Homo sapiens: one gene and its partner. The protein of the gene in region 2 interacts with the protein of the main gene of each other region in a pairwise test. Each region holds a gene or a part of one and is shown on either strand. Other genes may lie near its edges.

Region 1 (16,713 bases), on a different chromosome or scaffold from region 2:
TGATTATTAAAATCATTGAGAAAATACTTTTGTCTTTAGTAATTAGACACTGAAGTATTTAGGTGGTCAAGTGACATCATGCCTACAAATTCCTCTCACATATTCAGGGGGAAAATATATACATTTAAAGAAAAGAAATGATGCTGGGCACAGTGGCCCACGCCTGTAACCCCAGCACTTTGGAAGGCCGGGGCGGGCAGATCACGTGAGGTCAGGAGTTCGAGACCAGCCTGGCCAACATGGCGAAACCCCATCTCTACTAAAAATACAAAAAATTAACTGGGCGTGGTGGCGAGTGCCTGTAATTCCAGCTACTCAGGAGGCAGAGGCAGGAGAATCACTTGAACCCGGGAGGCGAAGGTTGCAGTGAGCCAAGATCGCACCACCGCACTCCAGCCTGGGCAACAAAAGTGAAACTCCATGTCAGAAAAAAAAGAAAAGAAATGATAAAGCAAATGGGGTAAAAAGGTTCACCTTTTGCAATCTCTCTGCAATTCTGAAATTAGTTCAATATAAAAAGTTAAAAGGGTAGAAGAATGGGAAAGGCACACTCATTTGTAGATACTTTTTCCCCTTCACCTTTGCCCCTTTTCTTGCCCAGAATAAGAAATGTGATGCTGGAGATAGAACAGTCAGCCTGTAACCTCAGGCCAAGGATGCCTGCACAGAAAAATTCCAGCTTGCATCCAAGCTGGCATCCTACAGCCTCTGTTGTTAGTCCTGCACTGCCTACCTCCTAATTTATTCAAGACACTCTTTAGTTTGGTGTTCTATTGCAGCACGTGGTAATCCAATTGATACAGCAAAATTAAATAATTTGCCCAAGGTTACAGCAGTCCAAAAGTGGCAACATCTGTCTAGGTTTGCAAAGAAAACATGCTTTTCTGGTCTGTATCATGCTGAAGTCTAGGCTTCTCTCTCTGTGAAACAGGAATAAGAATTTCTAGCAGTCCAGAACGAAAAACACACAGAAGACTGCCTATGGCAGGGCCTGGCACAGAGGACAGAGGCTCAAATGTTTGCCGAATCAATAATTCAAGAAACCAAGCACATCTGTTTTCAGTATTCTGGTATACTGAGCTATTTTAAGTACTGAAGGAAAAAAAAACTGTATTTATGTGGGTGCAATACTCTAGCTGCTGCAGATATTAGTCAGCAATTTCATTCAGTTTCTTGGATCTCTCTCACACTCGATCCTCACTGTATCCTTCACAGAAATCCTTCTACCCTCTCTTTGTCCATCAGCTCCTGCAACTCATGTCCCCATCAAAGGGGCAGAGTATGGATCCCATGTGAAAAGCTCTCTGAACACAGTGGCTTACTCAGCTGGGGCAGGCAAGTGTTAGACCACAAGAAGGACCATCCTTCCCAGGTTGTCAGAAAAAAATCAAAACTGCTGCACCAGGAAGGCCTAGCCTCTGGCCAGAGCTAAGCAGCTATCCAGAGGCTGAGGCTCAAAAAGCTTCATGCAACAGAGTTAAAGGTGCAGGAAAGAAGACACTGAAAGCTAATCAACCCATCAGCCATGCCCCGGGGCTTTTCTGAAGTTGATAGCAATCACTAATATATGTTAAAATGAAATGTGTTAAATACTTCCTTTCACTGATTGGTTTTAAATGGGACAAATTACGAACTTTTTAAAAAACAAAGATCCTGGTATTTATTACACCATAAATACCAAAATACCAGTATAGTCATTTTTCTCTGACCCAGATACTAGAACGAGACCTAGATAGCAGCACCCTCACATGAAGGAGACCGGCTGCTGCAATAACCTATACAGACCTTAGATTCTGAGCTTTTTAGGAGTCAATACTCACATACTTGGGAAAGAGAGAGCACATCTAGGACTAGGGTCTAGGTCACTTTGGGTCACAGACTTTGTGCCCCTGTCCTGAAAAGGTCATGTGTGTAGGTATTGGAGGTGGGGAGAGGGCAGTGGGAAGGGCAAGTTGGAGCTTTTCTAGTTCTTTTTTTTCCCCTGGAGACACAGTATTGCTCTGTCACTCAGGCTGGAGTGCAGTGGTGCAATCTCAGCTCACTGCAACCTCCGCCTCACAGGTTCAAGAGATTCTTGTGTCTCGGCCTCCCAAGTAGCTAGGATTACAGGCACGTGCCATGATGCCCAGCCAGCTAATTTTTTGTATTTTTAGTAGAGATGAGGTTTCACCATGTTGGCCAGGCTAGTCTCAAACTCTTGAGCTCAGGTGATCTGCCCACCTCAGCCTCCCAAAGTGCTGGAATTACAGGCGTGAGCCACCACACCCGGCCCTCTTCTAGTTCTTGTTTTTTTTTGTTTTTCTTTGTTTTGTTTTTGTTGTTGTTTTTGGAGACAGAGTTTCCCTCTTGTCACCCAGGCTGGAGTGCAGTGGCGCGATCTCGGCTCACCGCAACCTCCGCCTCCCAGGTTCAAGCGATTCTCCTGCCTCAGCCTCCCGAATAGCTGGGATTACAGGCATGCACCACCATGCCCAGCTAATTTTGTATTTTTAGTAGACACGGGGTTTCTCCATGTTGGTCAGGCTGGTCTCGAACTCCCAATCTCAGGTGATCCACCCGCCTTGGCCTCCCAAAGTGCTGGGATTACAGGCGTGAGCCACTGTGCCCGGCCTCTTCTAGTTCTTTATACCACCCACAACTAGTATGGTGTTTGTGCGATCCTGTAAGGAAGCATCAGGGGACAGAGGCCAAACAGAAGACTTCTCTTCTTTGCCTCTTTGTACTTACAATCTTCTCATCTTCCATCCCTCTGCCCATGGACTCCTAAGCTACTGGCAGAAAATTATGTCCACACCCAACTACCTCTCCTTTTCCCAAACCACCTGCCTATGCCAGTTCTGGACCCTCCACATAACATCTGCAGGTTACTGAGCCCATCCTGATTATCTCCCTAGTGTATTTGTCAATCACAGGCCATTGGCATCTTAAAGTCAACTTCATTAAAAAACTGGAATTATGGCCGGGCATGGTGACTCATGCCTGTAATCTCAGCACTTTGGGAGGTTGAGGCGGGTGGGTCTCCAGGAGTTTGAGAGCAGCCTGGGCAAGACGGTGAAACCCCATCTCTACAATAAAATAAAATAAAAATTAGCTGGGTGTGGTAGTGCACACCTGTAGTCCCAGCTACGCAGGAGGCTGAGATGGGAGGATCGCTTGAGCCTGGGAGAAGGGGGTTGCAGAGAGGGGACCTTGGAAGTGTGGGCTGACTTTGGAAAGTTTTGGTCCAGGTCAGCTACCATCTGCTGGCCTGGAGGCCCAGTCTGATCTCAAGAGACAACTCTGTCACTCCCTCCTGCCACAAATACTTGCTTGGGGCATAGCCTCAGGCAAATGACAGAGATCAGCTGCCAACTACTCTAAAATCATAGCTTGCTGGGAAGTTGGCAATGACTCCATTAAAATCATCTTAAGCTTACATGGAATCTTGGCATCACCCAATGCGAACTTCAAAGGCTTTGGTCTAGCTATTGAATGGGACAGTAAAGACTGCAACCCTACCCTGGCTATTCAGGACATACTTGTTCAGCTGGCTTGAGGTGTTGGGGGAGAGACAATGGTGTTGGGAGGTAACAGTCAAATTCTCCACAAGAAACAGTGCTAGGGCCTGGATCTGATAAACTTGTCCCTCGATAAACAGTTTTATAAAAAGTCCTTTGGCCAGGCGTGGTGGCTCATGCCTGTAATCCCAGCACTTTGGGAGGCTGAGGCGGGTGGGTCACGAGGTAAGGAGATCAAGACCATCCTGGCCAACATGGTGAAACCCCGTCTCTACTAAAAATACAAAAATTAGCTGGGTGTGCTGGCACGCACCTATAATCCCAGCTACTTGGGAGGCTGAGGCAGAATAGCTTGAACCTGGGAGGCAGAGATTGTAGTGAGCCAAGGTAGCATCACTGCACTCCAGCCTGGAGACAGAATGAGACTCCGTCGCAAAAAAAAAATTACAAATAAAATAAATAAATAAATAAAAATAAAAAGTCCTTTGGAAATGAAAATGGGATTTCCTAATTTAGGTGTTTCTTCTTTCTTTCTTTCTTTTTTTTTTTTAGGTGTTTCATAAGTAATTCTGCTTATTGTATTTTCTTAAAAATGGAAACACACCTGGGTTATACTTTCTTTAAAAAAAGGGTATAGATTTGCTTGCTGATTTAAGTACAATGCAATGTCAAATTACGTTTATTAAATAATGTAACATGATCTTTTGAATCTTTGCAGAGAGGCAGAACTTATGCTAGCATACACTAGTGATAAGGCTGGAAAAATAATTTCAAAAAAAACTGGCAAGCAGTTTAAGTACGTTAGGGGATACAGTGAGCATGTATTGTTTTTCTTATCCTGATAAACATTCTCCTGGCATACTATTCCAGATTTCCTAGGAGAAATGTGAATGTCCCTGTTCCCCAGCTCCTATGCCATATGCTTTGAGATGAGATGAAGACTTCTACTCCTTGCTTTAGAGGTGGGAATGTGACTCAAGGCCAATCAGAACATCTCAAACCTTAAACTACAGGAATTAGCTCACCACATAGGCATGCGACCCTATCAGGTAAAATGAGTCACAAGGAGACTTTTGCTGGGACTCTTAGGAGAGAGGTTGGGAGTCTTTGATGAACTTGGGCCTAGGATACTAGGACTATAGGTCCTGGCAGCCATCTTGCCCCGCATGGAGCTAGAGAAAAAAAAACAAAAACAGTTAAGGAGAGCAGAGTCCAGAAATAGTGAAAACCCAGATAACAGGGAAATTGGCTTGATACCCCAGATTAAGCCTCATCTGAAGTAACAGACTTCTCAGTAACATGAGCTAGTAGGGCTGGAGTTGAAGACTTACAGGGTAATATCTTTAAACGTTCAGTTGTTAAGAAATTGATAATACCGTGGCTCACGCCTGTAATCCCAGCACTTTGGGAGGCCGAGGCGGGCGGATCACGAGGTCAGGAGATCGAGACCATCCCGGCTAAAACGGTGAAACCCCGTCTCTACTAAAAATACAAAAAATTAGCCGGGCTTAGTGGCGGGCGCCTGTAGTCCCAGCTACTTGGGAGGCTGAGGCAGGAGAATGGTGTGAACCCGGGAGGCGGAGCTTGCAGTGAGCCGAGATCCCGCCACTGCACTCCAGCCTGGGCGACAGAGCAAGACTCCGTCTCAAAAAAAAAAAAAAAAAAAAGAAATTGATAATACCGAAGATGATCAGGGTCTCCACTCTAATCATTATTGAGTACTTACTATGTTTCAAGTACTAAGTAATATGAACGTTACAGATATTATCTAATAAAATCCCAAAAACAACCACAGGAGGCAACAATTACCATTCCTTTAAAAAAAAGTAAAGCAGGAACTCTGGGCTCTATAGCATGTGAGACACCTCAACTATTCCAAGTCCTTACCTTGGTCTCATTTCTTTTTTGAGACGGAGTTTCGCTCTTGTTGCGCAGGCTGGAGGGCAATGGCAAGATCCTGGCTCACTGCAACCTCCGCCTCCCAGTTTAAGCGATTCTCCTGCCTCAGCCTCCCGAGTAGCTAGGATTACAGGCATGCACCACCACGCTCGGCTAATTCTGTATTTTTAGTAGAGACGGGATTTCTCCATGTTGGTCAGGCTGGTCTCAAGCTCCCGACCTCAGGTGATCCACCCGCCTCGGCCTCCCAAAGTGCTGGGATTACAAGGGTGAGTTACCGTGCCCGGCCTGGTCTCATTTCTTATCTCCTGAGAGAGGTAGCTGTCCAACATTTTAGCCTCTGAATCTTTTTGTTCAAGCGAAACAGGAAGTATAAACAAATGAAACCAATCAAATGGAGCAGGATGGGGGGGCCCAGAACCCTTTTTTTTTTTTGAGAAAGGGTCTCACTCCGTCACCTGGGCTGGAGTGCAGTGGCACAATCTTGACTCACTGCAACTTCAAGCAATTCTCATGCCTCAGCCTCCTGCGCATAGCTGGAATGATAGGCCACCACGCCCAGCTACCAAAACCTTCTTTCTTGGACTCTCCTCTCCCAAGGATTTCCTAAGGCTTTTAAAAATATTTTGAGGGCGCCGGGCGCGGTGGCTCATGCCTGTAATCCCAGCACTCTGGGAGGCCGAGGCGGGCGGATCACGAGATGAGGAGATCGAGACCACGGAGAAACTCCGTCTCTACCAAAAATACAAAAAATTAGCCGGGCGCGGTGGCGGGCGCCTGTAGTCCCAGCTACTCCAGAGGCTGAGGCAGGAGAATGGCATGAACCCAGGAGGCAGAGCTTGCAGTGAGCTGAGATCGCGTCACTGCACTCCAGCCTGGGCAACAGAGCGAGACTCCGTCTCAAAAAAAAAAAAAAAAATATTTTGAGGGCTAGGCGCGGTGGCTCACGCACTTTGAGAGGCTGAGGCAGGCGGATCATAAGGTCAGGAGATCGAGGCCATCCTAACTAACACGGTGAAAACCTGTCTCTACTAAAAATACAAAAAATTAGCCAGGCATGGTGGCATGTGCCTCTATTCCCAGCTACTTGGAAGGCTGAGGCAGGAGAATCGCTTGAACCCGGGAGGCCGAGGTTGCAGTGAGCCGAGATCGCGCCACTACACTCCAGCCTGGGTGACAGAGCGAGGCTCCATCTCAAAATAAATAAATAAATAAATAAATAAATAAATAAATAAATAAATAAAAATATTTTGAAGCCTGGGGCAGTTGGCTCACACCTGCAATCCCAGTATTTTGGGAGGCTGAGGCAGGAGAATAGCTTGAGGCCGGGAGTTTGACATCAGTCTGGGTAACATAGCAAGACTTCATCTCTACAAAAAAAAAAAAAAAAAAAAAATTAGCCAGGCATGATGGTGTGCACCTGTAGTCCTAGCTACTCAGGAGGCTGAGGCAGGAAGAGCTCTTGAACCCAGGAGTTCCAGGATGTATGTGCCACCACGCCGAGCTAATTTTGTATTTTTAGTAGACAACGGGGTTTCTCCATGTTGGTCAGGCTGGTCTGGAACTCCCAACTTCAGGTGATCCGTCCACCTCAGCCTCCCAAAGTGCTGGGATTACAGGCGTGAGCCACCTCGCCCAGCCTCAACTAGTCTTTTTTTTTTTTTTTTGGGACAGGGTCTCACTCCATCCTCCCAGCTGGAATGCAGTGGCACAATCATGGCTCAATGCAGCCTTGATCTCCCAGGCTCCAGCGATCCTCCCACACCCTCCCAAGTAAGTGGGACTACTGGCTGGGAATACAGGCGCATGCCACCATGCTCAGCTAATATTTTATTTTTTGTAGAGACAGGGTTTTGCCACATTGCCCAGGCTGGTGTTGAACTCCTGAGCTTAAATGATCCTCCCACCTTGGCCTCCCAAAGTGCTGGGATTATAGCCATGAGCTACGTCTTTAAAAACCTATATACGATACTGAAGGGGCTTATAACCTACCAAAATAATAAATAAATAAAAACCTATATATGATAGATTTCAAATACAAATGATCATTTATATTTATCCTCCCAAGCAGGCATAGACAACATTCCACCTTACTACCACCCCAACTAAAAAACAATCTTATGCAATTATATTTCGTTGTTTTTGCGAGTTTTCCACTAGAAAGTTAAGTGGGCCACTGAAAAAAGCAATTTGAAAAAATGAATTTCAAACCAATGAATTTTGTTCGTTGATCTATTGTCAGGTTTGGTTTAGAAAAAGATCACTCTTAATTTTGATTATATGTATTTTAATGATTCATAGGACTCTTATCCTGAATGCTTAGATTTATGAAAGCCAGAAGTATTAACAGTGCAAGTCAGGCCGTCACAATTTGTTCAAGTTTTCTCTTCCTTTATTAACTCAGGTAGTTCCTGAGCATCTACCATATTAAAGGAATTATACTAGATGATTAAAGGATGCAAACAGGAATACAACACAGTCCCTGACTTTTCTCCCTCTACAAAATCAGTAGAAGTGGATTAATATGTAACTCTTCCTCTGAAATAAGGAGTCTATTTCATGGTTGTTCTGTAGTGACAATGCCTCGGGGATCCCACCTTCATCACCTTTGCACCCAACTGTCCATCACTCCTGTGCAGGGGATGCTGCTGGGGAAGAAAACAGGTCAAATGCAGGGAAAATTCATAGTAAGCTGTTACTACTACACTCACGAAAGTATAGTAACCTACTTTACTCACTGAAGTACAGTAACCTACTGTACCCACCAAAGTTTAAAACAAAACAGGACATTTGACAAGGCTGGTGCCTTTAAACAACTTTGCTAAAATGTCAAGGCACTCTTTTTAATTATTAAATAAGAGGAGTAATAGACATTTGTGGCCCACTCCGTCTATGAGCCTCATTCCTGATGATGGGGTAGAGTGAGTTTCAGGGACAAGGTGAAGTGAGGTTCAGGGAGGGGTGAGGCTTAGGGGCTTAAGTGAAGTTCTTTGCATGCATTTCTTAGTAACAAAAATGCTGAGTAATTTACTGGTTACTTTTTTTAGGCTGCAACAAAATGCTCCCATGGAAAATGTCTACGGTAAAATGTCAAGTGTATAGCTTTAAAGCAGAGGACAATGCTTAGCGCACAGTATTTTTGGCAGTATGACCCCACCATTCTCCAAGTTGCCCAGGCTTAAAATGTTGGCACTAGGAAACACATAGCTTATGATGTCTTCCCTACAATTTCACTTTACAGATTAAAAAAAGGGAACCTCCTCTTAGTATAATATTCATATATTCTTTCAATAATTTATTCATTTATCCATCAATATCACCTTTTATGAGACAGTGGTAAGCAACAGAGATATAAAATGAATAACATAGTCCTGCCCTTAACAGTTTGGTTTAGCAAGCATTTATTCAATGTACACCATATACAGTATCAATAACTGCAAAGTGCTAACATATAGATGTGTACCTACATTTTAGGGAAAGCTTTCAAGAATGATGTCAGAGTTGAGCCTTAAGGAATTAGCAGGAGTTTGCTTGATGAAGAGAAAGGAAGGGAAGGGCATATCCAGGTCTGAGAAAAATGCCCAGAGTATGTGGGGGAGGCAGGAGCTGAAAAAGTAGGCAGGAGCTAAATCATAACAGGCCTGTATGACAAACTAAGGAGTTTGCACTTTATTCTGGACAGAATGGGGAACAACTGGAGGATTTTAAGAGGAATGACATGAACAGATGTTTTGTTGTTGTTAGTCTCACCCAAGGATGGACTGGAGATTGGACTGGAAGGAAGCCAGGGCTGAATGCAGACAAACTAATTAGGAGGCTGTTGCTGTCATCTCAATGAGAAATGATGAGAAGAACATAATCTATGTCACAGGCACAGAGGATGGAGAGCAGAACACCTATTTGAGAAATATTCTATAAATAGAAATGATAGGACATGACTATTGATTGGACATGTGTGGGTGGAAAGCCAGAGTCTAAGATTCTTCCCAGCTTCCTCTGTCTAGCTTAGGCAATTATTTGGACAGTGGTACTACTGAGCACGGCACGCACACAGTAGAAGCAGCATATTGACTTTTTTTCTTTAAGGGAGGCAGGGAAAGATGACGAGTTCAATTTTAAATGCTGAATCTGAGACCTGTGGGGAATCCAAGGGGAGAGGTGCATGAGTCAGTTAGCTAACTAGACCTGTGCTTTTTAGCCTCAAGAAATTTACAAGACTATTCCAGAAGCATGTGTACTGACAACCTCACTGCCAAAGGAACAGGCATACCAATTAGAGAAAATGACAATTTTTCATGTTAAAAAAAAAAAAACTGAAAACACAGGGGTTGAGAGTTAATAACGAAACATTATGTTACTCGCCAAACTGACACAGCAGAACAATGTATTTCTCTAGTAAGCTAAATGTAGGGTTTGATGGGTTTCCTCCTGACGACACTTGAAAATAGAGGTGTACCTGGTGTTTAGATCTAGGAATTCCTTTCAGCAGGTTTGAAGAGCAAGAGCTGAGAAATGCGCCCTCCAGTGGCAGTGGAATGAGGGGTGTCTAGTAACCCTTTTTACCACCAAACAAAGCCCTGTAAAGAAATGCAATTTACCGGGATCAGAAAGCCACAATGCTGGTACCAGTAAACCGTCAAACCAAGCGAACCCTCTCAGGCGCCAGGAAGCCTTACCTGTCACGTTGGCCAAAGGAAAATTTCACTTTCGACTCAACAAAATAAGACCTCAGATTTGATAGCTTGCAGTAAGTCCCGCTTGGCGACGATTAAACACCCTGCAAGTCGAAACGCGTAGTCTAATCAAATCCTCTCCAGCCTGCAGGGCCGGGCTTCCACCACGTGGGTGGCTGCGGCCAGCAGGATCAATCCGCGAAGGGTGGGGGTAGGAGGCGTGCCCCTGCGGTGGGAGGCGGGGTCTGCGCAGTGGGTGGGGCTTCGGCGGAACCTAGCTAAGAGGTTCCTCTCGCCTCCGCTCCCCTTTTGCCTTCAACCTTCGAGCCGCCACGTAATGCCACGTCCCCGCGCATGCGCATCTTGGCCGCTGCTGGCGGCTGTTTCCGGGCTTAGAGGGCTGGAGTGGCCGCCGAGTTGGAGGCGGTGGTGGCAGCAGTAGGAGTGTGTAGAGTGCGGGATTGGGGCCCAGGCCCTGCGGAGGGCGGGGGAAGTTGTCTTCTTTTTTTTCCGGAGGGGCCGGTAAACCTGGTGGCTGAACGGCAAGATGAATTTCCTCCGCGGGGTAATGGGGGGTCAGAGTGCCGGACCCCAGCACACAGAAGCCGAGACGGTGAGAGGAGCAGCGGGTCTGGGACTTGGGAAGGGGTCCGGGCAGGGACGGGGACGGAGCACTCGGAGACCCGAAGGTCACCTCCAGCGTCCCACCATGGAGGGGGCATCCACATGCCGCCTCCCCCTTTGCCCTCCTTCCGCTCCTGAAATCCCAGAGTTATTCAATCACGCCCCCAGCTCAGTCCCCATTGCTGCCGTTCGGCCGGACTGACGGCGGCCGCGCCCCGCAGCTCTGTAGGCCCTGAAGCTCGGGCTAGGAGAGTGGTCCGCAGGTGGTACCGCACGGGAAGGGACGGATGCGCGGCCGAGCTGGCCCGAACTGCCTCCCACGCCCCTCGGGGCCGTGGGCCCCTCCCTCTTTCTCTTTCGCTCGTCTGCACTGGCCGAGAGGAGCCTGAAGTCCTGCTCCCTCCCTCGCAGTCTGAAACTGGGGCGTTGGGGAAAACTGCGAGAAGGTTTAAAACCCAGCTGTTGGTGAGAGCATTTGGCTAAGAATAAAACGATATTCTTTGAAGGACAAATCCACCTGCTCCTGTCCCATCAACTGGAAGAGCGGTCGTTCTGCCTGGTGTTATTTGTTCAGATCCGGCTTTTCGGGCTCACCCAAATATATATCATTTGGCAAATGCTACCTTGAACGTAGTAGGGATCTTAAGCGCTCAAACTGCTTTGGGGACACGTCCACCGCTTTCTGCCTGAACTCCTAATGACATGATTTGCGGCGTTATTTAAAAAAAAAAAAAAATGGTTAGCCGCTGAAAACATTATTTAATAGTTGCTTAGATTCTAGGTTTAGAATACACTTATTTTGAAGTTTGGTTAGTGTTTAATGGAATCGAGGGTGTATGCCTTTTTGAAATAAACTTTTTATTTGAGAAGAATTTTAGATCTACATAAAAGAGACTAAGTATAACACTTTAATGGCTAACTTTGTTAATGGGATCCTGAGGGATAATATAGTAGCTTTCATTTGTCAGGCTCTTACCTTGTGCTAGGTTCTGTGCTGAGCTCTTTATATTCCACATTATGCTTTAATCGTTAACTACCCTGCAAGATAGGTGAGAGTATTCTCACCTTAAAAGTCAAAAAATGAGACTGAGAGGGGTGAAGTAGGCCGGACGCGGTGGCTCACGCCTCTAATCCCAGCACTTTGGGAGGCTGAGGCCGGCGGATCACCTGAGGTCGGGAGTTCGAGACCAGCCTGACCAACATGGAGAAACCCCGTCTCTACTAAAAATACAGAATTAGCCGGCCGTGGTGGCACATGCCTGTAATCCCAGCCACTCGGAAGGCTGAGGCAGGAGAATCGCTTGAACTCGGGAGGCGGAGGTTACGGTGAGCAGAGATCGTGCCATTGCACTCTAGCCTGGGCAACAAGAGCGAAACTCTGTCTCAAAAAAAAAAAAAAAAAAAAGGGGTGAAGTAACTTGACCAATGTCACACTGCTAATAATAGAGCCAGGATTCAACCAAGAGGTACCTTACTTCAAAGCCTTCACTTTATTGCTCATGCCTGTATTTCAATACTTTTTGGGAACTTTATATAGTATTACTAAAATTAACTGCAGCTAGTCGCAGTGACACAGGCCTATAATCCCAGCTAAGGGGATGCTAAGCCAGGAGGATCGCTTGAGCCCAGGAGTTTGAGACTAGCCTGGGCAGCATGAAGAGACTCCATCTCAAAAAAAAAAAAAATAACTGCGCAGGTCTGGTTAGAATTGTTTAAAGCATAAGATGAAAGCCGGTAAATCTGTTTCTTTCATTTGAAAATCACTTTTCTGTCTCTCACTGTAACACACGCACACATTTGGCTTCACTCATCCATTCCCACTTGGCAACAAGGCAGCCTGAGCTACCCTACTAGAAGATCATGTTCTGTCTAGATTACCAGAGTCATACCATAATCACAGCCCACCACTTTTTTGTCTGATATTTGTGTTTGTGGCACCAGGTTATGAAATATGGTTTATTACAGCTTGCTTTGTGGAGTTAGACTTTGATTTGAATCCTGGCTTTCCACCCCTGATTGGATTGGATATGTAAGAGATAGCTAATACCCTCTAAGTAAAATGAGGAAAATGCCTGCTTTTTAGGATGTAATGAAGATTAAGTGAAATAAGTAGAAAGAGCCTGGCACTTAGTAGATGTATAATGAGAGGTAATTTTTACTATGTGTGGGTTGAACGAAGAATACCCTTTCCTGTTTTTGTTATTATTGGCCTTGTCACAGTGACTTCTGTAGAAAAGATGGAATAGAATTCACAGTGTATAGGATTTTAAAGCTAGAAAGTCCCAGATAGAGCCTCTTCATTTTATAGTCACAGAGCACTAAAGTAGCTTGCACAAGGTTGAAGAGTTGGAGCTAGAACATTTTGATCTTGCCACTGTGGATGGAACAACATAGTTTTTATATCACAATTTCAAAGTGAAACTTGAGTATCACTTGCGTATGTTGTATATATAAACTGAAAGGGTCCTTTCTTGTTCTTGCCTAACTTTGAGTATGTACATTTAAAATTGGAAAAGTAATTTGTCTTCTATTTTTTCTTTTTAATCACCTCCACAATAAAGCAATTTGCCTTCTGAAAATTATTATTCTGAGGTACAGTATGAATAAAATTTGTTTCACTATTTCGTTCCACCAGGAAGTACAACAGGTAAAAGGGGTCATGGATTACTAATTTAGAAGTATTTATAGAGCATCAGTGGAGTGTATATACAATTTTAGATGTTTTAATTGATGATTTAGTCTGGCCAGGATATTTGAGTTACCAGAGCTTGGAACCCCTAGCTTCTATATTATCATTTATTATTTTGTAGTTTTTTCCATTTCTGCAAAATTAAATTTTTTTCATGGTGGCTTTCCATCTTTCTTGCTTTTTCTAACATCTTTTTTCCAATGGAAGGGCTCTTTTCTTTGTCTGAATTAGACCTGTTATTTAAATTCATCATCAGCGCCTCCCCTAATCTGTACTTTCCCCCAGCACGTTTCAGATGCTTTTTCCTTTCTGAGCTACCTTTACATTTTAACTACAGTGTGCATATATCTTATTCCTTCTAGACTCTTAAAGTGTCTTTAGGGCAGGGTTCATAATGTATTTTAATCTTTGTTTTTCCACAGTAGTAGATGCCCAGTAAATACTTGTGAAATGAATTAATTATAGTTTTATTTGAAAGAAATCACAGATCTGTAATTATAGCAACTTACGTTACTAGGTACTAAAACACTTTTTAAAGACTAGAAACTGAAGTTCTCAAATGAAGTTCATTGTGTCAAGCTTTTTACTTAAGGGATTTTTTCATATTTACTAAATGCTTTGACTGCTTTCTTGTTTTTTTTTTTCTTATTGAATTTAAGTATCTTTTAAATGTGTGAGAGTTATGTGATTGATTGTATAGTATCTAGCTTTTCATACTCTTAGTTAAGAGTAACTTTGGACTGATATTAAGATGTTCTTCAGGCCGGGGGCTCACGCCTATAATCCCAGCACTTTGGGAGGCCAAGGCAGATGGAGCACTTGAGGTCAGGAGTTTGAGACCAGCCTGGCCAAACTCCTTTCTGGAGTCAAGCACATTTTTATGGTGAAACCCTGTCTCTACTAAAAATACAAAAATTAGCTGGGCATGGTGGCACATGCCTATAATCTCAGCTACTCAGGAGGCTGAGGCAGGAGAATCGAGGCGGTGGTTGGCAGTGAGCAACCACTGAGTGGTTAAGATTGTGCCACTGCATTCCAGCCTGGGCGAGAGAGCGAGACTGTCTCAAAAAGAAAGATGTTCTTGAGAACCTGTCAAGTAGTAAATATTTTATCATAGGATAGTCAATTCTATAAAGTACTGGATATTTTAAATTCAGAATTTCATCCACATTAAACTTTTTCTGTTTTAGAGTCATGTACTTTTGTTTTTGTTTTTGTTTTGTTTTGTTTTGAGACAGAGTCTCGCTCTGTGGCCCAGGCTGGAGTGCAGTGGCGCAATCTTGGCTCACTGCAAGCTCCCCCTCCCGGGTTCACGCCATTCTTCTGCCTCAGCCTCCCAAGTAGCTGGGACTACAGGTGTCTGCCACCACACCGGCTAATTTTTGTATTTTTAGTGGAGATGGGGTTTCACCGTGTTAACCAGGATGGTCTCGATCTCCTGACTTCGTGATCCGCCTGCCTTGGCCTCCCAAAGTGCTGGAATTACAGGTGTGAGCCACGGCACCTGGCCCCAGAGTCGGGTACTTTTACATTTCATTTCTCTTTTTTACTTGACACTGATTTCTGGTGATTGAAGCCTCTTTAGCCTTGACACAGTTTGCTGGGTGCATATTATTATAGTACAAATCCTACTCATGCTTTTGTTTTTTAGTTTTCTCTTTTTCCCTAACCACTAGACCACCAGGGACTTCATGCTTTTGAATGTAAGCTTATGTGTGCTTAGTGTTATATCTGCCTTCTATCTAGCACCTTTTTTTTGGGTAGGGGGGTGGGGTACGAAGTCTCGCTCTGTCGCCCAGGCTGGAGTGCAGTGACGTAATCTCGGCTCACTGCAGCCTCCGCCTCCTGGGTTCAAGCAGTTCTCCTGGCTCAGTCTCCCGAGCAGCTGGGACTACAGGTGCACGCCACCACGCCAGGCTAATTTTTTTGTATTTTAGTAGAGACAGGGTTGCACTGTGATGCCCAGGCTGGTCTTGAACTCCTGAGCTCAGGCAGTCTGCCCGCCTCGGCCTCTCAAAGTGCTAGGATTATAGGCGTGAGCCACTGCGCCCAGCCCCCAACTTGTACCTTTTTTAAAGCTAGTTTCTTGAAAATTCCAAGCAAGTGTTAACTACATTTGATGATGAATCATAGAGGCATTTTCTGTTCTCAAGTTGGACCCCGAGACATGAAAGTTGCTAATGTCCAGAAAAAGCATACAGAATTAGAACATTGTTATGGGGTCTCTTTCCAGATCAAACTTTCATCAGCTGTCTCAGAAAGCAGAAGGGCTAACAATATAAACACAGCCATATTTTCTTTTAATAAAAATTGTTATTAAAGAGTGTGGACTTAAATTTAGACATAGTTTTCGTTTAGTCAAGCACATTTTATACCATGTTACTATAAATGTGTAGTCTGAAATTCCTATTTGGGTTGATGTATTCTACATTAATAACCAGGTCAATGTCATAACTGGAATGTGTTTTCTCTCTTGGCCTGTTTTGCAATAACAATGTCGGAGAGAACTGTAATAATGATTTGTGTTTTGGTCATTTCTATATCGAAGCACTCTTTTTAAGTAGGGCCTATTGAATACTACATGGCTTTTTGGAAGGTTAATTTTGTAGATTATATAGGGTTCATTTAAAAGTTAGAATCATTTAAATTATACATGCCGTAGCATTACCAAGGTATGCTTCAAAAAATTTGAATAGATGTCCATGAAAAAAATTTTGTCAGCAAAGAAGTGTGTGCAACGACCACTAACAAAGAAAAAACCTCTAGTATTTATGCAAGGTTTTGTAAGCAGGCACTGTGTTATAGTTTCAGATATTTTTAAAATGTAGATAAAAAGTAAGCTGTTTGCCAAATTTATCTGACCAGACCTTTTTTTTTCCTCTAGGGAACTTTGTTATCTATTATTTTGAGAAGCATACTTAGGGAAAAATTGTCCAAGAGGATATATAATTCTGATGCCTTTTTCTTTATTTTCCTTTATTTCATTAAAAACATTACTCTTGAATCTGATTAGGAAAGAATATTAGAATTCCTTATATACATTTGTTGATACCAAATACTGTTCCTCTTTCTTTTTATGTATTTACCTTTTATTATTAATATTACTGCTTTGTACTCTGCTTTTTGTCTGTTGTAGGTATAGTAAAGTTATGCTTATTATTTTTATACCTCAAGCAGAAGTGCCATAAACATTTTTTGTGTCAAAAGTTATTCACCATTAATTTGAAAACTTTTTTTTTTTTTTAAAGAGACAGGCTCACAATATGTTGCCCAGGCTGGTCTTGAACTCCTGGCCTCAAACAATCCTCCTGTCAGCTTCCCAAAGTGCTGG
Region 2 (16,803 bases):
TCTGGGAGTTTAAGAAATTAGGCGTAAAGAAGAGGAAGATATATTTAAGATAGATAAAATGGAAATGTTGGTTTGAGCATAAATATTTTAAGGAATTTTACAAACATGTACATATGAATTGAGAACACGGTGCTATATTGGGGAGAGAATACAAGGATGACAACTGGAAATCCCATCCAGAATGCTTGAAGTACAAGGGACTTCACAGATCACTTAATCCAGGCTCAGAGACCAAACGAGTTTCCCAATTAAATGGCATAACACTATAAAAGGCTTAGCATGGTGCCTGGCATATAACAGACACTCAGTTAATACTGGTATCCCCCTTTCCCTATGACCAACCAAGTCACACTCCAGTAAGTCTTACAATAACCACCACCATGAACATCATCTAAATCTTCCAACAGCGAGTTCTCCAGTCTTCCAGGGATACCAGGTCTTTTAATCAGCTTATTTCAAGGAAAATTCTATTACTATTATCTCTATACCGATGTTACATTGCTGCGGTGAGCATTAAATGATATCAATTAATGCTAGCATGAAGTTTCCAATTCTGCCTTCTCTTAAATACATCCTTCCCATTTTATGGCAGTAGGAGTGTGTGTGTGTCCTTGTGTGCATGCACACATGTGCGAAGGGGTGAACAGCCATTGAAGCAAATATCAGAAATACTTAGGATCTAGGTTTTTTACAACTCTCTCCCTCCCCCAAGATTTTGATATGCCTCCTGGGTACCAATCCCATTCCATTGAGAATTTCCTAGTAATGAGTCACTATAAATGTTAGGAATGAATGTATTCCAGACATGTATTGGAATGGGGGAAAAGATAACGGGGTAGTGACTGCCCCCCATTCAGGGACATGTCGACAAAACCAGTCTCACTACAAATTCACAACTCAATGACCAGGCTTGTTGTGATGCTCAATTCAATGTAAGGCCCTGGAAGTAGAATATCACATCTTGTATTTCCTTCTATGTGTCTGCACAGTAACAAAAATGGGATATTAGTAGATGCTTAAGTGGTCACCATTAATCATCCTCAAGAATTTATTTCAATATTTAAAAATTCAGCTTGCATGTAACTCTCCAGGAACATTTATCGTGGTCCTGAACTTGCTTTTCAAATAAGTCAAAAGAGAAATACTTGTAAATCAGTTTCTCAATAAAATGTTGTGAGCATTTTCATCTAAAAAGAAACATATATTTAAACTCTAGTTATCAAGGTTCATGAATGGCCTAAAATTGTGGGTAAAATTTTGTGTAGGCACACTCTCCCCACCCCCACCAGAGAGCAGTAACATAGCTTCCATCATATTATGAAATAAATCCCCCCAAAGCTGTATAATCACTGCTCTGTACTGCTTCTCCCCCTGGCTTTGAAGCTAAAACTCTCAGGTTACTCAGCTTGAGTTCTAAAAGCAGATTTAAAAATAAAATGACAGGATAGTAGTTAGTGGGGTGGGGGGGGGAGGGGGGCTACAGGTAGCTGTTGAGATGGTATCAGGGGACTTCTGGGGCACCGATAATACTGACTTGATTTGGGTGCTGGTTAGTAAGGAGTATTCACTTTGTGAAAATTCATCAAGCTGAACACATATGATTTCTGTACCTGTCTGCAGGTATATATTTCAATAAAAAGTTTTTGAAAAAAATAACAAAGATGGGTCACTTATACACAGCATATATCATTACAGAATTTAATGAAGTCCTTAAAAATGATGCACTAGGAGAGGCCCATTGGTAAAGAACTGCAGCCTCCAGACAACAGCCAGTGAGGAACTGAGGCCTGACCAGGCCCGCTGTGTGTAAACCTAAAGAAAATTCTCTATCCTCAAGTCAAGCCCTGAGATTGACTGCAGCCCGGAGCCCCAGCTGAGAGTTTGACTGCAAATGAGACCCTGAACCAAAACCATCTAGTTAAGCCACTCCCAGATTCCTAACCCTGAGAAAATGTGAGATAATGTTAGGTGTTTTAAAAAGATGCAGTTTCAAAACACTATCTTCCTTGCACATACTGAAGTGGGCAAAGTAGCCTCAGTAGTTGTACCTACAGAGAGACATTAGCTTATTGGTTTAAACTGGCAACTTTCCCACCTCGAAAGGCTGTGGTACAATATTGCTTTCAAAACCCAACCAAGAAAAAAGAAAATACAGCTGGTGGTTATGAACATCAATTTCTGGGTCAAATGGAAGCTAATTTCTCTGTAAGATATAGAACAGGGATCTTCCTGATACTTCTTTCTATACCTTCATCTAAATTAGAGATTCTTCCATCACTGTACTGTATTTTGTTTTTTCTGTGTTAAGTGTTTGAATGATCCCACACGTATATATACATCCCTTAATTTTTCTCAAGGCTTCTCAGGAAATATACTAAAGTCAGAGTAATCAAGTAAATATATAGATATATATGTTTTAAATACAGACATTTCCAGTGTGGTGTTGAATAGGAGTAAAATAATGAAATAAAATACACACATATTATTTGTATAAACCCACGAAAGAGGTATAATCAGGGTGGGAGTGGGTGATGGGATATAGTTATTGCTTATCACCCAACACAGATGTAGCATGTTTTGAAATCAATGTATTCTTTCTTGTATCTACGTGTGTGCTCCTGAAGCCTGCCAAAAGAGCATCAGAATTGGATATTTCAGCAGTCTGGCTCCAGTGTCTTTCTCATTCTGAATCCTCTGAAGTGCCCAGCACAGAAAGGGCCTTGCACACACTAAGCATTCTGGTATTAGTCGAACTGGAAAAAAGTTAGAAAAGTTATGTTTTTTCCATTTAAAATTCTCAAAAGTTGTACGGAACTCCCTTTTCAAAATGGACTACCCATAGCACTTATCATTTCCTTGCATATTGTTAAAAGCTGAAAAAACAACCATCACTTTTGCTATAATCAGGCCGACTTTTTGCACCCTGCTAAAATTTAACCTGACAAGTTGTAATGATTCTTCACAACTCCCTGGAGTTACACTGGTAGTCAATATTTAATTACTGTGCCTGGAATTTAAAACAAACTATGACTACTTTGCAAATAGTACATTCTCCTAGTACAGTCATAATGCAAAGCCCAGTAAATAATAAGACCCAACACAACAACGTAGTAATTCCAGCAAAATCCTGGAATCAGTCTTCATTTCCATTATTTATGGTAAAACTAATATAATTCATATTAAATAGCATATTCGATATATAAATCATATTCTTTCCTTCCTTTTCCTCTCGAGCTCCTGAACACCAGCTAGCACTATTAAAACTAACATCTGATCCTTCTTAATCTTCTTCATCACCACTGTTCACTGAGCGTTGTCTTCATCTCTTTGCGATAACTTACCAGCTTTAGATATGTTAAAAAAAACATGAAAGGAAGGGCAACTAAACATAATTAAACACACATAAGTAAGTTTGATTTTTTTCTCCCACGCAAAGCTTTGTAACCACCCTGCCTTCAGGGTGAAAGTTAGATAAGGTTATCTAAGACCAAGAGTAAGAAACCCATCACATCGAGGAGCTGCTTAAGGGCACACTTCTACAGACACTTGCCTGTAACATCAACAGAGCTAAAGGGCAATCCAAATATTATAATTTTCCCATTACTAAAGTTTTATAGCACTTAAAATCGTCCATAAAATACATATCCTTAGAAGAGAGATATCCAAGACATCAGCCTGAGAGAACCCGAGAATCATATGACACTCAGCCTCAATTATGAAAAAACTGCTCACCCTGGTGGTTCAGAAAAGCACTAGATAACATAATGACTCGACTATTTAGTTCAACAAATGCAACTCTCCAATAATCAGTCATGAATCTGTAGCAGACACCTTTATAAACTTCACGTTTGATTAGTGTTATAAGAAAAATATCCCCGCCACCCTCCCCTCAATGCATTGCAGACTGTCTTTAATGAATCCTTTATTTACTCATTATACCTAGGGAAGCGTGTATCTTTTTCATAAGAAGGTTTTCTGCCACAATAAAGTACCACCTTAACATCTGTGAGTGCCCAATACTATTAACACTTAGTGGTCTGACAAAGAAAAGCAGTATGTCCCATTCTCTCTAAAGGGAAAAAAATTCACTCACAAACTTACCCCGTTGATATGAAGACCACTAAGCACTAATTTAGACCAACAGATTGCAGCTCTTAAAAGTAAATAAAGGGTACCAATAAAACACTGATCAACATGCTCCCCTTTGTTTTGAAAAGTTAATAAATTCTTACTTCCGTAGATTTTTGAGTGGTGAGTGGGAGAACAACATCTTACTAAAAATAAGACAGACCTTCGTTGGAGCGACAAATGCTGTGAAGATTGCTTTGATGCATCCTGACTTTCACAGGAATGACAACCTTTATGCTTCGAAAATGTGGGAGATCACATTAAGAGATATTTCTTTACGGGAAACAGCAAATAGCACGATGTATATTCATAAAAGTACTGACTCCCTCTGCATTCCGAAGCATGGTTCACAAAGGCTATCTATTCAAAGCCTGTTCTAGAATGCTCATAGACATCCCCCCAACCCCCAGTAAGGAAGCGCACTGGACCCAAACTCCAAAGACTTTGGGACACTTAGACTTACCTTAACCAAATCTCATTATCATTCTTGTGCTTTGGTTTTTGTTCCTTTAAATGACAGAAGTAATTCCTGCCTGAGTCTTGTAAGATCCAAGAATTTTTAAAAATCACATAAAATATTTCATGCTTCTTAGAAATGACTGCTATAAAACGCAAGGTGCTATACTATTATTATTATCATTATTATCATCTCCTTGTATCAACTTTTACTGTCACTTCTGAATTAAGCCAAGGTACTGGCTTTGAAACACAAATCCCGTGGTTTTCCACCTGTGATTACGTTTCTTGCTATAATTCTGTCCTGACAACTTGTCCCGCACACTCCGAAGATCTACTTTACTGATCTCTGGCCTGAAAATTAAGTCTTTTATTTAGTCCCTTCTCTCCAAAGAAAGGGGCAGAAGTCACACCACTCCAGATTCTTGTAGACGTATTAAGAATGAGATCATTCTTCTTACTTGAGGAATGATGCCACAGAATATAAAGGCGACACTTCTTGCCCTCTAATCTTTCCTTGCCACAACACAAAACCTGTGCACTTGGTTACCTAGAAAATTGGAAGGTTCCCCACAATGGATGTGCATCAATAACTGTCATAAAAATATCAGATCTCTGGCACAGACAGGAAAAACTTTATCTAGTTTGCAAGAAATTAAACCCTGCAGTCCTCCATCTGCTACTGGGTTTGGTATGGGCTGTCCCTTTCTAGGGCCTGTGCCTGTCTTTGAGGAGAGTGGCCTGGCCCCACAGCACGCTAGGAGCAGCTCTTGAGCCGGATCAAGACCCTCCCGAGCAACGTCTGCACCCAACCCTGCATCTCTCATTTCAGACACACCCCCCTCCACCCCGTGTTTCATAGGAGGTGTGGGCGCTCAACTCCTTCACTGTGGCTAGGGGGACGCGAGGGGAGGCGGGCCGAGGCCTGAGCACCCATTTTGGAAGACCGGGGAGCTCGGCCCTCCGGGCTGTACGATTTGGAGTGTCGGAGGGAAGGGCGCATCCGTGGGAGGGGGAAGGAGGCCGGGGTTGCTGGGGGGTCTCTCGTATTCCGGGGCGTGAGAGGAAGGCGGCGGGAAAGACTCCGGAGAGCGAGGTTTATCAGCGCGAGGTTTCCTTTTTGTTATCTGCTGAGGGATGGCGGGCGTCATGGGGGCGTCCCCCTCAGTAAAGTCAGCAAGGGGGTCCCCCTCGCTTCACCGGGGGGCGGGCGGGGGGGCCCGAGGACTTGACGGAGGCCTCCCCCGGGGACGAAGACAGTGACTGACGAACGTTGTGGGCTGCGCGCGCCGGGATGCCCGTTCCTGTCCCTGCAGCCCCGCGCGCGAGGTGTGGGACCGGGTGGGAGGGGACGGAGAAGGCCCCCGGCCCGGGAGGCGGGAAAGGCCCCGGGGCTCCGGGACGGGCGGCGGCTCCAGAGCCCCGAGTGGCGGCGGCGCGGGCCTGCCGAGTCCCGAGCCGGCTGGCGCCCTGTGGGCCGTGTGCACCCCCGACTCCACTCGCCGCTCTTCGTGGTCGCCCCCTCCCCCCCGCGGCTCCTCTCACCTGCACATGATCCGCCATTTTGCTCCATTCATGCTCCTCTCCGGCCCCCCCTCCCCCCCAGCGCGCACCTCGGCCGGAGCCGCTGCCGCCGCCGCCGCCGACGCCGTCGCCGCTGCGCCTGCGCGCTGGGGACTCGTCGCGCTGCGCTCGTGGCGTAGCGCCGCTCAGCTGCGCAGGCCCCGGCGGCCCGGGCCGTGGTTGGAGAATGCGCAGCACCGCTGGGACGGCGTAAAGGCGCGGGCAACGTCAGCGGCCCGGAGACGCCGGGTGGGAGGAAGGAGCGGGCCGGGGGAGCGCGAAGGAGGGGCAGCTGGGGGAACAAAGCTTTGTTTACATGGTTTTTAAAGGGGCCGCGCTCGCTCCGGCAGGCGGGCGCTGGAGTGGGAGTTGGCGCTGCCTTCTGCTCGTTTGCGTGGTGAGGGCTCCTGGATGGGGGCCGAGGTCTGTCGCCGCCCCGGGACCCCTGCACCCAGTGGCTTCCTCTCTTCCCAACCGTCTTCCCCCTTGACTCGCCCCTGGACGTCTCCCACCCCCACCCCCACCCCACCCTGCAGCTACGGGGACCCCCCACACCCCACCTAGGCTGCCTGCGAGATTCCTTACTTTCCAATGCCCTCTACTCAACGGGGGCCGATTCTGTGCTTGTGTCTGTCTAGCTTTCTGGACCAGGGCCATCGCTCTCTGGTCTGGATTTCACCAGCAACCCCAGTGGTTGATCTCGTGTTTTTCATTTCTGTCCTTTCGTCCTTGATAAACATTCATGGAAATAACCACCGAATGGTGGTGATGATCAAAACATACGAAGGCACAGTTCTGGCTTCCCAAAGACATTGTCCTCGTTGCCAATACTCTAGACTGCCTCCCGAGAGGGTCAGATGCTGGAAGAGGCAGCGGGGCTGGTGGTTAGGACCCCTAGGCTCGGTCTTGTGGAGGTATGAGTGGGAAAGCCATCTCTCTGGGTCAGATAAGGTCAGCCCCTGCATGCTGAGGCCAATTCCAGTCTTCCTCACTAGGAATTATCTGTTAGATAATGCCGGTTCCTGTTTTCCATTGGATTCCACTGTGGCTTCCTTTTAAGGCCCCCAGGTTAGATCATAGCTGGATTCTGAGAGCACTGATTGTTTGAAGTTTGTATTTACAGGGGACTACCATCATATGCAAATGATGGTGGTAGTGAATTACACACCCTTGGTGGATGTAGTGGACCGGTGCTCAGCATTCATTTCGACTTCCGTCCTCCTAGTAGGTCTTCCTGGTTTGCAGAGGTAGGGCACCTGGAAACTACATTACCCAAACTTCCTTGCAGCTAGGGTTCTGTATGCAAATTAGGCTCTGCCAATTAGGCTGACTCAGAGAAGATTTAAGAGGCAGAAGATTTAAGTGGCAGAGCTTTTGACTGTTAACTTCTAGCGAGCATAGACCTTTTCAGATGTTGGGTTTTTGTTTTTCCCCAAAACCTCCCAGCGTCCAATCATTAGCTCCGAGCGTATAAAGAGGCGGGGTGATGGGGTCAGTGGCTTTCTGAACCTGGCATCGGGCAATGAAATATTCTCAGAGTCACAATTGCAATGGAAATTCTTTGGATTCCCTACTGGACTGAATAGAGGTAACAGTTTCACAGTGGGCCAGGCCCAAATTTCTGTCCACCCTCCCTTCCCCCACCCCCGCACCCCAACCTCCCCGTGTTTCTCCCTGTGTCTTCCCTTCCTCAGTAAATGGTACCACCATTCATCCAGTTGCTCCTAATAAACACTCAGGAGTTGGTTCTTCAAGTCTTATCAGTCCCCAACATGCAAGTCACCTGCAAGTCCTGTTCAATCTATATCTAATATATACCCAATATGACCACTTCTCCATCCATCTCCACTGTTAACACCTTGGTCCAAGCCACCATTACCTTTCTCCTGTGCTCTGGTAATAGATTCCTAATTAGTTTCCCTGCTTCCTGTCTTGCCCCTTGATAACCCATTTTCCATATAGCTGGACGCTGCAGAACATTATTTTATTTATTTGTTATTTTTTGAGACAGAGTCTTGCTCTGTTGCCGAGGCTGGAGTGCAATGGCGCCATCTCTGCTCACTGCAACCTCCGCCTCCCTGGTTCAAGCGATTCTCTTGCCTTAGCCTCCCAAGTAGCTGAGATTACATGCGCCCACCACCATACCTGGCTAATTTTTGGATTTTTAGTAGAGACAGGGTTTCACCACGTTGGCCAAGCTGGTCTGGAACTGCTGACCTCAGGTTATCCACTCGCCTCTGCCTCCCAAAGTGCTGGGATTACAGGTGTGAGCCACTGCGCCTGGCCAGAACATTCCTTTAAAATCATAATTCAGATAATTTACACTCCTACTTAAAATCCTTAAGTGGCCTCATGTTGCATTTAGAATTCGAATCTTTGCTGTGGCTCAAGAGGTCGTATGAGCTGACCTCACTCTACCATGCCCCCTCTGGCTCAATGCTCTGTGGTCATTCTGGCCTTGCAGTTCTGCAAAGCCAGGATCTCCTGCCTCAGGGCCTTTGCACTTGCAGTAACTTCTGCCTGGATTGGTTTCCCTTCAGATCGTGAAATGGCTGGCTCACTCTCCTCATGGACTTTTCAGCTCACTTGTCACCTCTCAGAGAGCCTTTTCTCACCACCCTCTTGAAAGTTGTCCCCTGTGCCTATCACTATCACAGCATTGATCACTGTCCAAAACTACATATTATTACTCTTTCATTATCAGTCCCTCCAACTAAAAGCAGACATAGTATAAACAAGGATTCTGTCTATGTTGTATCCCTAGTACCTCTGCACAGAGTAGATGCTCAGTAAATAATTGTTGAGGCGGGGCATGGTGGCTCACACCTTTAATCCCAGCACTTTGGGAGGCTGAGGGGGGTGGATCACCTGAGGTCAGGAGTTTGAGAGCAGCCTGGCCAACATGGTGAAACCCCGTCTATACTAAAAATACAAAAAATTAGCCAGGCATGGTGGTGTGCGCCTGTAATCCCAGCTACTCAGGAGGCTGAGGCAGGAGAATGGCTGGAACCCAGGAGACGGAGGTTGCAGTGAGCCGAGATCGTGCCACTGCATTACAGCCTGGACAACAGAGTAAGACTCCATCTCAAAAAATAAATAAAAATAAATTTAAAAAACTGTTGAATGTATTAACTTCTTTATGTCTCATTCTAGGGTGCATGTGGGTTTCATATGAAGACATAAAGCATTCTAAATATTATGTCACTGTTAGGTAACATGTTATGTTATGTTATGTTATGTTATGTTATGTTATGTTATGTTATGTTATGTTATAGGCCCTTCCTCTCAGCGGGTTTCTAGAACTGGGTTCTCTCTTTCCTTAGTACTGAGAAAAGTGATAGACTTAATGGAGAAAGGGTGGGGGGCTACAAATGAAGCTCAAGAGACTGGCATTGTCCCCCTCCCACACCCCACAGTCAGGGACCACTGGGGGTGGAAGGGGCAGGGATGGGGTCCTTCAGAATACACGCTCACTAATTCTTTCGCTCAGTCCTTCACCCGTCTCAGGCCCACATCAGTTCTCTGCCTATCCTATACGTACTTACCTGTTGTGTGCCCAGAACTACCCCTTAGCTAGCTTCCCTACCTGCACATCATTTGAGGGTTACCTAATCCCCAAGCCGGCCCAAGGAGTCAGACACAGTCTCCTCTCCTCCTTCCTTTGTTGCCCCAAAGACAAGGTCCCAGCCCTCTTATGTTAGGATTGGGTTGCTAATCACTGCAGCAGAATAGTAATGAAAATTTCTTGGAGCTGTGGTTCCTGACTCCTGCTGAGAGAAACTGTTGTAAGGGACAGGATCCCAGTGGCTTAGAATGAGCCACAGGTGGGGTTTGGAGTGCCTTTTCCTTTCCCGTAAAAACAAAGACAAGCCAAGAGGCACCCTCAACTCCTTTACAGTGCTTTTTCTACACATCATTGGTGCCTGTGGACCCTAAGGGCTTCTCATTCTGTGCGCTTCTGCTGTGTCTTGGAGCAATGTCTCTGGGCTCCTGTTTACAGGGTTTCCCCATGGCTAGGCAGAAGGTACTGGGGTTAGTGCTTCTACATCAGGGTCGCCACAAATCCTGCTAGGGACAGTTGAAGGGGCCTAGAAGGACTGCAAGGGTGTTGCTCTTGGTATATACTCTGCTGCCCTATCTTCTGCAGTCAACGGCTACCGGAGAACTCCTCCAGCTTCCATAAGCAAGGGATGACAAGGGAGTGTCTGGATTGCCTGGGGTTCAGGCCTCCGGGTTTAAACAACTTTCAAGTAATCTGGTAAACTTGGGTGCCCCCCTGTGGTTCTGAGTGGAATGTGTCCATTTTGCCTTCAGGGAAGGCGATCAGGTTAGCAGGGGACATCCTCTGTCACCTTGCTACTCAGTGTGCTTTGACCCACCCACCACCGGCAGCATCTCAGGGCTCATTCCAGACCTACTTTATTGGAGTCTACTTTGAACAAGATCTACATGTTACAGTTTGGAAGGCACTGCTCTGGCAGCCCCTAAGATGGCCATAAAGCCCTCCTCTTCTCACTCCCTGCACCAAAGACCATGCAGCTCCCAGGCAGAGTTGACTCTCCTTAGGGACTAAAGAGGAAGATTAGGTCACATCCCATTTCCATACCCCTAACCACTTCCCAAGGTGTGCTTTTCCCAAAACAGTATGCTTGGTTCTCCCTTGAGCTTTGGATCAACCTCTTCAAACCCAGGCATCACGGCTGAGGGCAGTGAGTTTGAAGTGACTCATCCTTGTCCTCACAGAGCTCATGACATTCATTTTTTTCAAGCTTATTTGGTCCAGTCCATGGCATGTACAGCAGAAGGCCTAAGCTGTGCACGGTGCTGCTCGCTCCTTGCCACGGTAACTGAACCCCTGTTGTAGAGGAAATGGGCCTGTTTATATAAGCACCTGTTATGGGATTAACCCCAAGAGTGTTGGTCTGAGTCTCAGTTTTTTCCAACCCTTCTGCACTGTGCCTCCATACAGATTGCTTCTCTAAACCATCTGGCTTTAAGTTAAACTTCTCTGAGCAGCTTGGATTTCCCCACAGCAATGGATCTTTTTGCATGGATCTGGATTCCATTTAGGGGCCCTGCAAAATGTTGAATTAAAGATCAGGAGCCCTGGTCTCTACTTCTTCCTCTGCCCCCAACTACCTCTGTGACCTCAGGCAAGTTGCAAATAAGTGTGTTCATACCTGCCCTGCCTTTGTCAAAGGATGGCGTGGCTGATGAAAAGTGTGTGCCTAGAAGCTTTGCGAGCTACGAAGCACTTTCGGTAACTCTGAACCATTTTCAAAATGTATATGAAAGTGATTGCTATTGAAACTTAAGATAATTTGCAGATGAAACCTAAGCATCTTTCTAATGCTCAGGAATGCTTGCAAGAAGGCAAAAATCCAACAGTTGAGATGTACTTGGGGAGTCAGTCCCTTCTCCAGAGGGGATGATCATCTTTCTAGAATCTTTACAGGGTTGGTGTGAGTGTGTGTTGTTGGCAGACAGGGAGTGCTCGCATGTAGTTAAACGGTTGCCTCTCTCTCTCTCTCTCTCTCTGTGTGTGTGTGTTTGTGAAACTGGTATCTGGTTAGGCCCACATGAGCTGTCTTATGTGTCTCTCTGTGCAGTGCCGTGTGTGTCATTCAGCTGTTAAGCGTTGAGAGACCTGGGTTCTGGTTTGGTGACCTTGAATAAATCCCTCAGACTTTCCAAGCCTGTTTCCTTATTTGTAACTTAGTGGTTTGTCCCTTCCAACTTGCGTACAGCTTGGAGGGGGGGGCCTTCACTACTGATTTCACTGTCTAGTTTGGTTTCTGGGTCTCTGTTCCAGTGGGCCAGCCACTCTTTGCTGGCGCCTCCCTGTGCCAACTTCTGTACCTGAATTGTTGCTCACTGAAGAGCTGGCATTTAGCTTTTTGGAAATTGTCTCTAACTCACTGGAAATGCAGGAAGCTTGAGTATAAAACTCACTCAGAAAAAAAAAAAAAAAAGAAAAAAAAGAACACACACTCAGAAGAAACCGCAGGGCCTATCAGCCTGTCGTCATCGAGCAGACTAGAATAGTATAGAAAACCCTAGGCAGAGAGGAAATGAACTTCAGAGAAGGGAAACACACGGCTAAGAAGAGAGAGGCAAGGGCAGGAGTGAAGGAGAGAGCTGAAGCCTGGGGCTCCGAGATGGTCAGAGGATGGGAGACGGGGCAGTGAAACAAGGCTTCTTGTATCTTCAGCAGCAGCAGACGTTTGGAAAGGTAGGAGTGAGGCTGGGCTGGGGTTGGGCAGGGGGCCTGGGAGGCTGCTAGAATTCCTGGGTTGGAGAGGGAGTTTCATATTCAAAACCCTTATAGGTCTGACTGTGCACCCACCAAGTTAGACCCAGAGCTCAACTTTGGGAGGGCTCTTTTCCTACCCGACGCTGTCTCCTGAACCAGGCCCCAACCAGGTCCCAAACTGTGCTCCTTACTGAGGGCTGTTTGCCCTGGGTGGGGGTGGGGGATGTGCTGCTTTCATCTCTTGCCTCTTTTGCTCTCTTGCTCTATGTTGACTTCTTTTCACCGGACACCTTGGAAGGGAATGGAAGGGGCAGCTGGAGGGACAGTTTAGGATGACAATAGAGGTTCCTTCCCAACCCCAGTGGGGTGCATGTGGCTGGTGTTCAGCTTGGGCTGGGGCCTCTGGGGGCCTGGACCCCAGCCGGCTGTCCATCCTCTTTCCCCTTCCCTGGCCTCCTTGAACCAGGAAGTCCTCGTCCCCTAACCAACACTGGGGGGCACACCTGTCTCTCTCTCATGGCCCAACCTATCAAGGAATGAGGCAGCAAGGTTCAGGAGGGTGGAGAGAAGTTCTCCTTCAGGATTTCGCACAGAAGGAGAATGAGGTCTCCAGCCCGGGTCACACGCCGCCCTCCTCACTCCCTCCTCTGGGCCTCGGCCACTGCCCCGCTTTCCTCCCCAGACTGGAGTCCACTGCGGTGGGCCTGTTTGGCCTTCTTGCAGCCTGCTTTGGGCTCATCCCGGCGTTGCTTTCTGCCTGGGCAGTCTCTGCTCTTGCTCGTGGGCCTCCTTCTCGGGGCTGGCGGCTGATCTCCGATTTTCTAATTCCTGCAGTCACTGTCCTCTTCTCTGCCTCCCTGGGTCTCATGTGATCTTCACCTCTCTCTCCCCATCTCCAAGTGGCTGCCCCAGTCCCCCTCCCACGGTTCCTCTTCTCCCCTTGGCTCACGATCTCCCCGTCTCTGGGTGGCTCCCTCCCGCCCCCGCCTCCCACGCCTCTGGCACAGAAATGGCGCCGCTTCGGCGCCTCACTGTATGGAGGGTCGGACTGCGCCTTGGCCCGGCTGGAGCTGCAGGAGGGCCCGGAGAAGCCTCGTCGGTGTGAGGCTGCCCGGAAGGTCATCCGCCTCAGTGACTGCCTGCGGGTGGCCGAGGCCGGCGGAGAGGCCAGCAGCCCCCGGGACACCAGTGCCTTCTTCCTGGAGACCAAGGAGCGCCTGTACCTCCTGGCGGCCCCTGCAGCGGAGCGCGGCGACTGGGTGCAGGCCATCTGCCTCCTGGCCTTCCCCGTGAGTCGCGCGGGGTGCGGAAAGGGCAAGGGGGCGTGCAGGCCGAGGGTGTTAGATACTTCCTGTGGGCAAGTGTTACAGGTGTCAAGGTCAGGGTGATGGGGTGCTTCCTCCATGTGGGGGGACCCGAACCCAGTGTGCAGACAGAGCCAGCAGGTTGAGGTGGCCTGAAAGAAGGCCTGGGCCAGAGGGGGGCCTGGGGATCGGGGAAGGTGATGAGACGGGGCGCCTCCTCCCTAGGGGCAGAGGAAGGAGCTCTCGGGGCCAGAGGGAAAGCAGAGCCGGCCCTGCATGGAGGAAAATGAATTGTACAGCAGCGCAGTCACAGGTGAGGGGGCGGGGGCTGCCCTGCTCTCCCCTGGGGGCTCTCCCCAGGGTGAGGTGGAGAGGAGGTGTGGGCTGGCTAGCTGCTGGCCCCGAGTCTTCCTGCCTTGTGGTTATCCCCAGCCTGGGCCAGCCCCGTTATCAGCCTCTCCTTCTCGCTTCCGGGTGCAGCCCAACGTAGGGAGCCTACCCTGCCTTGAGTCTCTCCCTTGGTTCACCTCATCTTACCTAGGGCCTGCTGGTGGGAGAGGGGAAGGCTGGGGGCCCAGGTGAGGGTGCTGCTTTTTTCTATTTTTGAGACGGAGTTTTGCTCTTGTCGCTCAGGCTGGAGTGCAATGGCACAATCTCGGCTCACTGCAACCGCCGCTTCCCGGGTTCAAGCGATTCTCCTGCCTCAGCCTCCTGAGCAGCTGGGATTACAGGCGTCGGCCACCACGCCTGGCTAATTTTTTGTATTTTTAGTAGAGTCGGGGTTTCACCATGTTGGCCAGGCTGGTCTCAAACTCCTGACATCAGGTGATCCACCTGCCTCAGCCTCCCAAAGTGTTGGGATTACAGGCATGAGCCACTGCGCCTGGCCCCAGGTGTTGCTTTTGAGGAGCTGGTGGAGGGAGGAGAAACTTTCATCTGCCTTCCATCTAAGCTTCACCCCCAGGGCCCCGGCAGTGGGAGGGCAGGGCCAAGGCTTCACCTGCAGCTGTGACCGTAGGGACTAGGGTGGTGGCTGGTTTGGGGTGAGAGATGGGGTGGGGAAGACAAGACTGTGGCTCTGGCGACAGGGGCAGGAAGGATGTGGGCACGAGGTTGGGGTGGATGTGGGTAGGGGCGTGATGCCTACTAGGGTAGGGGGTGGAGGTACCTGGCCTTTTGGGGAGTATGACCTGGCACAGAGCAGCTCAGCCTCCAAGACCCAGGCAGGGGGCCATAAGTGTGTGGATAATACTTTCTAGAAAAGTTCTGGTACGCTCATTTAGAACTGGGCAGTGGTGAGGCAGGCCAGCTGTTTCCCATTAACTGCCTTCGCCTTCTCTCTCTTCTTCTCCCCAGTCGGCCCCCACAAGGAATTTGCTGTGACCATGAGACCTACAGAAGCCAGTGAGAGGTGCCACCTGCGGGGGTCCTATACCCTCCGGGCTGGGGAGAGTGCCCTGGAGCTGTGGGGTGGGCCCGAGCCAGGGACCCAGCTGTACGACTGGCCCTACAGGTTTCTGCGGCGCTTTGGGCGGGACAAGGTGAGTGGGAAGCTGCATCAGGGCAGGTTGAGAGAAAGGATAAGCTACGAACAAAGAGGGGTGAGAAGCAGCGAGGGGATGGGAGAGACCAGGAGAGGGAGATGGAGTGAAGCAAAGAATAGAGTGACAAGATGGCAGAAGTGGAGTAGAAGGAAGGAGAATGAGAAGAGGTGGAGAGACCGTAGAGGGGTAAACAGCGTCTGAACTAGTGCCTAGCTCCATCCTTGAAATGGTGGCAGTGAGCAGGAAGGGCCTGGAGAGGGGAGAGGAGAGAGCCAAGTCTCTGCCTGTAGGGGAAAGCACAGAGGGCAGAGGAGGCTCCAGCAGTTCCCATGAAGGGAAGCTGGAGGTCCCAGGGCTTGGGTTAGGGATGGGGTTTAAGAAAGCATCCCTAGCTGGGCGCGGTGGCTCGTGCCTGTAATCCCAGCACTTTGGGAGGCCGAGGCAGGTGGATCATGAGGTCAAGAGATCGAGACCATCCTGGCCAACATGGTGAAACCCTGTCTCTACAAAAAATACAGAAATTAGCTGGGCGTGGTGGCATGCGCCTGTAGTCCCAGCTACCAGGGAGGCTGAGGCAGGAGAATCGCTTGAACCTGGGAGGCGGAGGTTGCAGTGAGCTGAGATTGTGCCACTGCACTCCAGCCTGGAGACACAGTGAGACTCTGTCTCCAAAAAAAAAAAAAAAAATGCACCCCTGCCCTGTGGCCTGGCCAATAACCTGCTTTCTCCCTGGTCCAGGTAACCTTTTCCTTTGAGGCAGGCCGTCGCTGCGTCTCTGGAGAGGGCAACTTTGAGTTCGAAACCCGGCAAGGCAATGAGATCTTCTTGGCCCTGGAAGAGGCCATCTCTGCCCAGAAGAATGCTGCACCCGCTACACCCCAACCGCAGCCAGCCACAATCCCCGCGTCGCTGCCCCGGCCTGATAGCCCCTACTCTCGGCCGCATGACTCACTGCCGCCGCCTTCACCCACCACACCGGTGCCTGCTCCACGGCCTCGGGGCCAGGAGGGGGAGTATGCCGTGCCCTTCGATGCGGTGGCCCGTTCCTTGGGGAAGAACTTCAGGGGCATCTTGGCAGTCCCTCCTCAGCTCCTGGCCGACCCTCTGTACGACAGCATTGAGGAGACCCTGCCCCCTCGACCTGACCACATATACGATGAGCCCGAGGGAGTGGCTGCCCTGTCCCTCTATGACAGCCCGCAGGAGCCCCGGGGTGAGGCATGGAGGAGGCAGGCGACAGCTGACAGGGACCCTGCTGGCCTCCAGCATGTCCAGCCAGCCGGGCAGGATTTCTCTGCTTCTGGCTGGCAGCCAGGAACTGAGTATGACAATGTTGTACTAAAGAAAGGCCCAAAGTGACAGAGGCAGCAGAGGGATGGTCCACCGCCCCTTGGCTTCTGCTGGTGACTCCTCCTGGCCACTGCATCAGAAGAACCTCCTCTGCCCCTTCTGGAGCCCGAGGCCTGGCCTGTCTTCGTTGGGGCTGATAAATTGCCTCTCCCAGGGCCTGCTGGGTGAGTCACCATCCCAAAGCAGGAAGGGTGCCCTGGAGAGA

The links.
Region 1: the proteins of XPO7 (region 2) and USO1 interact in binary tests that used the Homo sapiens proteins (3 or more experiments, as listed by UniProt).

Annotation. Positions count from the first base shown.
Region 1 is NC_000004.12:75,714,204-75,730,916, forward strand, and holds the start of USO1 (general vesicular transport factor p115), read left to right. Parts: upstream 1-10,373; 5' UTR 10,374-10,616; coding exon 10,617-10,682; intron 10,683-16,713. UniProt on the Homo sapiens protein: General vesicular transport factor required for intercisternal transport in the Golgi stack; it is required for transcytotic fusion and/or subsequent binding of the vesicles to the target membrane.
Region 2 is NC_000008.11:21,909,115-21,925,917, reverse strand, and holds the start of XPO7 (exportin-7), read right to left. Parts: upstream 6,257-16,803; 5' UTR 6,148-6,256; coding exon 6,130-6,147; intron 1-6,129. Other genes in the region: DOK2 (docking protein 2), read left to right, coding at 12,317-12,379, 13,408-13,689, 13,930-14,017, 15,061-15,245, 15,987-16,607.